Homo sapiens: one gene and its partner. The gene in region 1 interacts genetically with each later gene. Each region holds a gene or a part of one and is shown in the gene's direction. Other genes may lie near its edges.

Region 1 (3,657 bases):
CCATAGCCTGGAAAATAGAACAAGACCTTGTCCTAAAAAAAAAAAAAACGCCAAGATTCTGTAAGTCCTTTCTCAACTCTCTCAAAGCCAGCACTCTCCCGGGCAGCAGAAGAAATCCTTGCTTTTGTGAATATTACTGAAGTTATTATTGAAAATGCTCGAGCGAGGATTCTTGACGGTTGTCTTTGAGCAGAACAATATTCAGAAGGGAAGCTGTACTTTTTTTTTTTTTTTAAGAATGCTTAGTCCCCAGATCTTAAGAATACTTTACCAAAGTGTGAGGTCTAATAAGACTTAATGCTTACGACATGTTTTCTTTGGAAAATGTTTCAGCATATTTGGCATTAGTCAGGAGTTCAGATATGTAATATTCCACCACCCTTTTTCCTGGAACCAGTTTGAAAAACAAACTATTTATGGTATTAAAGATGGAAAATACTTTTCTCTTCCTGGCAATGTGGTGAAGTTGAACATTTTGCAACATTGGAGAAAGAAGTGTTCTTTCTGGGGCTGTCTAGCGGAATGCATGGATATGAGATAATAACATATTTTACTCCTGAGTAGTATTTGGATCAGGTTTTTTTTGGCAAATGCAAATTGCTTTTTGTGAAGTGCAAAACTGTGCCTTGGTGTTTATAAATATAAACTCTCTTCTAATCAGCCTGCATTTAATATCTGCCTAGTACACACGAGTTGAAGTTTGATAATGAACAAAGTTGTGAAGTGACCAGTGAAACCTTTCAACAAGCTTGCTTTTACCCTTCCTACTTAAAGAGCCAGGAGATCTAATTAGTCAACTGTGCAGACTGGCTGATGTTAGAATTTGATCATGTGGCTACTGCACAGTCATAGACAATTTCTGATTTCTGCAGTATAGCTCCCAAATGCAAACCCTGGTTACCCCTGTTTGATTGCTCTCTCTAAGCATTGGTATTCAGAGCATTCTATTGTAACCATGTAATACACATCCAGGGTTAATCCAGCATATACAGAATAGACTGTTTTTGAGTTGCAAGGTACAGAGAGAGAATACATAGTGAATGCGAATAACAAATCAGAATTACTTTTAGAACTTGGTCCTTTTTGAAAAATCCTTCTAAGTCTGCTTGGTTTTACCTTTGTAAGTTAACATATAGTCATCACATGCACATATACGCACACACACGGTCTCTTTCCCTTTCTAATAAACATATTGAAAGGTGAAGGGTTCGATCGCTGACATCAAGGTTTTCTCTTGCTCCAGTGCCCTGCCCCGAGGGTGCAGAACTCTCAGAGAGCCCTGTGTTGGTCCCACCAGGGCTGTTTCATGCCTTCTAATCAGCCAGAGTGCTCGAACATTATGCCCTGCTGCTCCCTGATCTAACTGGTAGTTGGTAGAGCTTGAGGAACAAGAGCTCCGAGCCAGGAAGCTCTGGGGTTTCTACCTGAGTGGCAGCACCCAGGCCACCAGGCTTACAGATGTTCCATCCCCCCAGGCTGCCTAGGCGTGCAGTCACATAGAACCTGCAGAGCCACCTCTGCACAACCCCTGTGGGCTACACCAGCAGTGGGCACTCCGCCCAATCCTTGCTTTATTGGCAGGGAGGAGGGGGTACAGGAGAGAAGATAGGCATCCTCTATGGACAGTTAATAATACCCATTGCATTTCTTTTTCTTTTTTATTTGATTGTGGTAAGAACACTTAGCATGAACTCTACCCTCTCAACACATTTTTAAGTATACAATACACTATTGTTGACTATAGGTACAATGTTGTGCATTAATTTTTTAAGTTTGTGATATATTTAGTAGCAAAGTCCTTCTGGAAAGTCCTCTGGCTCTGCTGCAGGGAAAGCTTGAGAACGGGAGCTCAGTTTCACCTGTTTGCTGAGAGCAAAAGGAAGCTGGCCCGGAAGTGGCTTGCAGGAAGGAGTTGAGCAGGGTTAGGGTGGGGAGACTGGGCAGTTTCTCTGGTTTTTGTAAGCTAGTTCTCTAATTACTTACCCTGAAATGTGTTCCGGAAACACTGACCTCCATTCTCTTATTCACATGGCAGACAGTGTACAAGCTGTTTCAAGCGAAATACTGATAATCAGGATATTAACTACTATATGTCTGCACCAGCCATGAATACAAATCACTGGTCACCAGTGTTTGCTCTGTTCCTTTTTAAAAAAATGTTTAATTAAATTAGGTAACTAATTAATTTGTAAAGATGGGGGGTCTCCATCTTGTCCAGACTAGTCTCAAACTCCTGGGCTCAAGCAATCTTCCTGCCTCGGCCTTCCAAAGTGCTGAGATTCAGTGGCTCACGCCTGTAATCCCCACACTTTGGGAGGCCGAGGCAGGTGGATCACGAGGTCAGGAGTTCGAGACCAGCCTGGCCAACATGGTGAAACCCCATCTCTACTAAAAATACAAAAATTAGCCAGGCGTGGTAGCACATGCCTGTAATCCCAGCTAGTTGGGAGGCCGAAGCAGGAGAATAGCTTGAACCCGGGAGGCAGAGGTTGCAGTGAACCGAGATCGCACCATTGCATTCCAGCCTGGGTGACAGAGGGAGACCCCATCTCGAAAAAAAAAAAAAGCCAAAGTGCTGAGATTATAGACATGAGCCACCATGCCCCACCTCTCTTTGTTTCTTTCTTAAGTTTAGAAATAAATGCTCGTTAGAGAAACTATTTATAAAACCAGCCCTGTTTATTCAGCATGGACTCATGAGACCAAATATAACTTATACAATGTTAATATGGCTGCATTTAATATTTAGTCACTGGGCTACATAGTAGGTAAAAATAACAGATAGTTTGTAAAAATGACTCTTTAGAATCACTTCTACAATATTACACTTTATTTTTTAAGTTTTTCCCTTTCAAGAAATTTGTGTTAATACCCTATAGACTTCTATCACCTTTTATCATTGCAGATATTTAGAAGGTTAGCAGTGTAATGACAAACAGATAAAGAAGTCTGTTTGTAGTTCATTTAAATATAAAAGGAATTGGCGTTTTAGTTGAAAACTTAGCTACACCTGATCAGTGTACTGCAGAACTTTGATGAGTGGGAGTCCCTGATAGATTCCTGGTTCTAGGCTCTTTGCCACCAGATCAACCAGAAAAAGGTGGTGTTTTGTTTTGTTTTGTTTTGTTTTTTGAGACTGAGTCTCGCTCTGTCTCCCAGGCTGGAGTGCAGTGGTGCGATCTCGGCTCACAGCAGCCTCCGCCTTCCGAGCTCAAGCGATTCTCCTTGCCTCAGCCTCCCAAGTAGATGGGATTACAGGTGCCCATCACCATGCCCAGCTGATTTTTGTATTTTTAGTAGAGACCAGGCTGGTTTTGAACTCCTGATCCGCCCACCTCAGCTGGGATTATAGGTGTGAGCCACCGCGCCCGGCCAGGTGTTCTTCATCAGACTGCAGGGACACCTCCAGCAATTGCTGCATGGTTCCTGGGGAATGCCTGCATTATTCTCCTAGTTTAAGGCAAATGAGCCAATTTCCAGAACTGGATTAGGGAAATGGAAACCCACACAAAGGAGGGGAATGAAGCTGAATGTTTCCCACTTCTTTTTCAGATTTACATGAGCCCAGAGGTCATCCTGTGCAGGGGCCATTCAACCAAAGCAGACATCTACAGCCTGGGGGCCACGCTCATCCACATGCAGACGGGCACCCCACCC
Region 2 (3,013 bases), on another chromosome or scaffold:
TATTAATTGATTATAAAGAAATGTTGGAAATGTAAACAGCAAAAATACCGTATTATTTAAAAGCCATTACCAGAGTTGAAGTGTCAGTTTGATATTGAATATAGTCTGGATTAGGAAATTAGTGAGAGAGAGAAAATATCTTAGAAGTTATGTAAACCACAAAACAAAGCAGTACCTTATATTACTAGCCTCTTTTTGTTGCAGGATCTCTCCCTCTAAATTACAGCAGTTCATTCAGCAAGTAGGGAAGGTAATTCTTGTTAATCCTCTATTCTGTTGGCGATTCTTCCACGTACTTAGTAGAGTTAAGGCAAAAACTTACCGAATTGGAAGTATGTATCAGAAGGAATTCTTAATTATTCACTTTGAAATAAAAGAATTTTCCTTATAGGTTCCAAGTAGTAGACTGTACTATAATACTGCTCTTCTGAAATAAATTGAATATTTTTACCTTGCCAAAACTATCATTGAAGGCTGGAATTTTAGGTACAGTATTTTTCTGTGAATGATTTTATGTTGTTAAATATTCTTTTAAAAATTCATATCTGTAATTGTTACTGTAGAAAACCAAATACAAAGAATTCTAAAACCTTTGTACCGTCTCTGTGTATTTGAGATTACTTAAAATATCTTTTTTTCTGTTCCAAGTTCTACTCAGTGAATGTGGATTACAGCAAGCTGAAGAAGGAACGTCCAGATTTCTAAATGAAATGTTTCACTATAACGCTGCTTTAGAATGAAGGTCTTCCAGAAGCCACATCCGCACAATTTTCCACTTAACCAGGAAATATTTCTCCTCTAAATGCATGAAATCATGTTGGAGATCTCTATTGTAATCTCTATTGGAGATTACAATGATTAAATCAATAAATAACTGAAACTTGATATGTGTCACTTTTTTATGCTGAAAGTATGCTCTGAACTTTAGAGTATAGGAAATTAACTATTAGAATTTAAAGAATTTCTTGAATTTCTGTAGTTTGAAAATACGACTTTAAGCTGCTTTAGTAAAACACTTCCATTTTGTGTATAGACTGTTGGTAACTTCACTAGAGCATACATAACAACTGGAACTGGAAATTATACAAAAGTAAATTGGGAAGGATACTCCAGCATCTGACACTGGCAAAATGGAAACCTTTGAGTTTCTCTTACTGGCTGTTGAAGTGTGTGCAGTTTTTAACAATGGTTTTTACTTGGCATCTCTTTGTTGTGATTTTCAAGGTTATAAGTTGCTTTGGTCCTAGGATTGAAGTTGAAATCTGAGTTTATCAGTGCTAACCATGGTGCTAGTAGTCAAGAGATCTTGAGAATTTTGGCTGCTGAGTCTTGGTGCAGGGTGCAGGTTTTCTTTTCTTTTTTCTTTTTTTTTTTTTTGAGATAGTCTCTGTCACCCAGGCTGGAGTGCAGTGGTACAAACATGGATCACTGCAGCCTCTACCTCCCGGGCTTAAGTGATCCTCCTGCCTCAGCCCCTAAGTAGCCGGGACTACAGGTATGTGCCACCATGCCCAGTTAATTTTTGTAATTTTTTTTAGAGACAGGGTTTTGCCATGTTGCCCAGGCTGGTCTCAAACTCTTGAGCTCAAGCGATCCATTCTCCTCAGCCTCCCAGGGTGCTGGGATTACAGGCGTGAGCCATTGCGCTTAGCCATGGTGCAGGTTTTCAAAGGCCAGGAAGTATATTCATAATTTTAAGATGGGGAATATAGCAAGTTTTCACATAGGTGTGTGTAAGTCATCACATCATAGAAACTTGAGGAATTCAGTGACATTAATTTTGGATTTTCATACGTAAGTATACAATTAAATGTTTACAGGGTAGTAGAAGCACATTTTAAATGTCAGGAACTGAACTAAGTATTTGAATTACGTGGATTATCTCAAAAATTTTGAAATTGTTAAACGAGTTGAATTACTTGAATTCATTCTGTTAGTCAAATGGTGGATATTTACACCCATGTAGTTTTGAATTTAGAGTGTGTAGAGTGTTTTCAGTTACCAGACTCCATGCTTTTACCTCCTATGTGTCAGGTATAATTTGAACCTCTAAGAACAGGGTTTCTCAACCTTGCCACTGTTGACTATTTCTGAAAGACAGTTTGGTTTAGCAGACCATCCCATGCGCTTTAGCTTGTTTAGTAGCTAACTTGGGCTCTGCCACTACAGACAAAAAGCACTCTTTCCCTCCAATTCCCACAGGCTATGAGAAGAATGGAGACATTACCAAATGTCCATTGGTGGGCAAAATTGCTTCATTCCTACCTCTGTTGAGAATTACTCTAGATCCTTTGGCACAAATTACCTCAAAGTTTAAAATTGTGTAAACAAACAGTGTGTCATGTAATTGAAAAACATTAAGCAACTCCAAATAAATGCTACATTAAGAAATTAGTAATAACGTTTTCTAGAATTGAGGATCATTTTATGCATCCTTAAAAATTCTTTGAGTAGTATCTTTCTACTTTGTGTCTATCCTTGGACTTTGCAATGTAAGAATACATATGAAGTTTGGCATGAAATAGGATATGTCTTAATGAAGAAACTATTACTGCTATTTAAGAAACTTCAATGGCAATCTAAAGAAATTGTCATTTACAAATGCATCAGATACCAATGCTGCCACGAAAGATAACACACTTTTTTTCTTTGAATGTTTAGAATTGTGCTTGTGCTTTTTTTTTTTTTTTTTTTTTTTTTTTTGAGACTGAGTCTTGTTCTGTCACCCAGGCTGGAGTGCCGTGGCGTGATCTTGGCTCACTGCTCACTGCAACCTCTGCCTCCTGAGTTCAAGCTATTCTGCCTCAGCCTCCTGAATAGCTGGGATTACAGGTGCCCACCACAATGCCTGGCTAATTTTTGTATTTTTGGTAGACAGTTTCGCCATGTTGGCCAGGCTGGTCTCAAACTGCCGACCACAGGCGATCCGCCTGCCTTGGCCTCTCCAAGTGTTGGGATTACAGGCGAGAGTCACTACTCCTGGCCCTACTATGCTTCATTCAGAAAACAGACT

The links. A genetic interaction does not mean that the proteins touch.
Region 2: changes in MAP3K8 (region 1) and COXFA4 together harm fitness less than expected from each alone (positive genetic interaction), as found in Homo sapiens cells (one large-scale study listed by BioGRID).

Annotation. Positions count from the first base shown.
Region 1 is NC_000010.11:30,454,532-30,458,188, forward strand, and holds part of MAP3K8 (mitogen-activated protein kinase kinase kinase 8), read left to right. Parts: intron 1-3,552; coding exon 3,553-3,657.
Region 2 is NC_000007.14:10,931,328-10,934,340, reverse strand, and holds the end of COXFA4 (cytochrome c oxidase subunit NDUFA4), read left to right. Parts: intron 1-648; coding exon 649-705; 3' UTR 706-2,398; downstream 2,399-3,013. UniProt on the Homo sapiens protein: Component of the cytochrome c oxidase, the last enzyme in the mitochondrial electron transport chain which drives oxidative phosphorylation.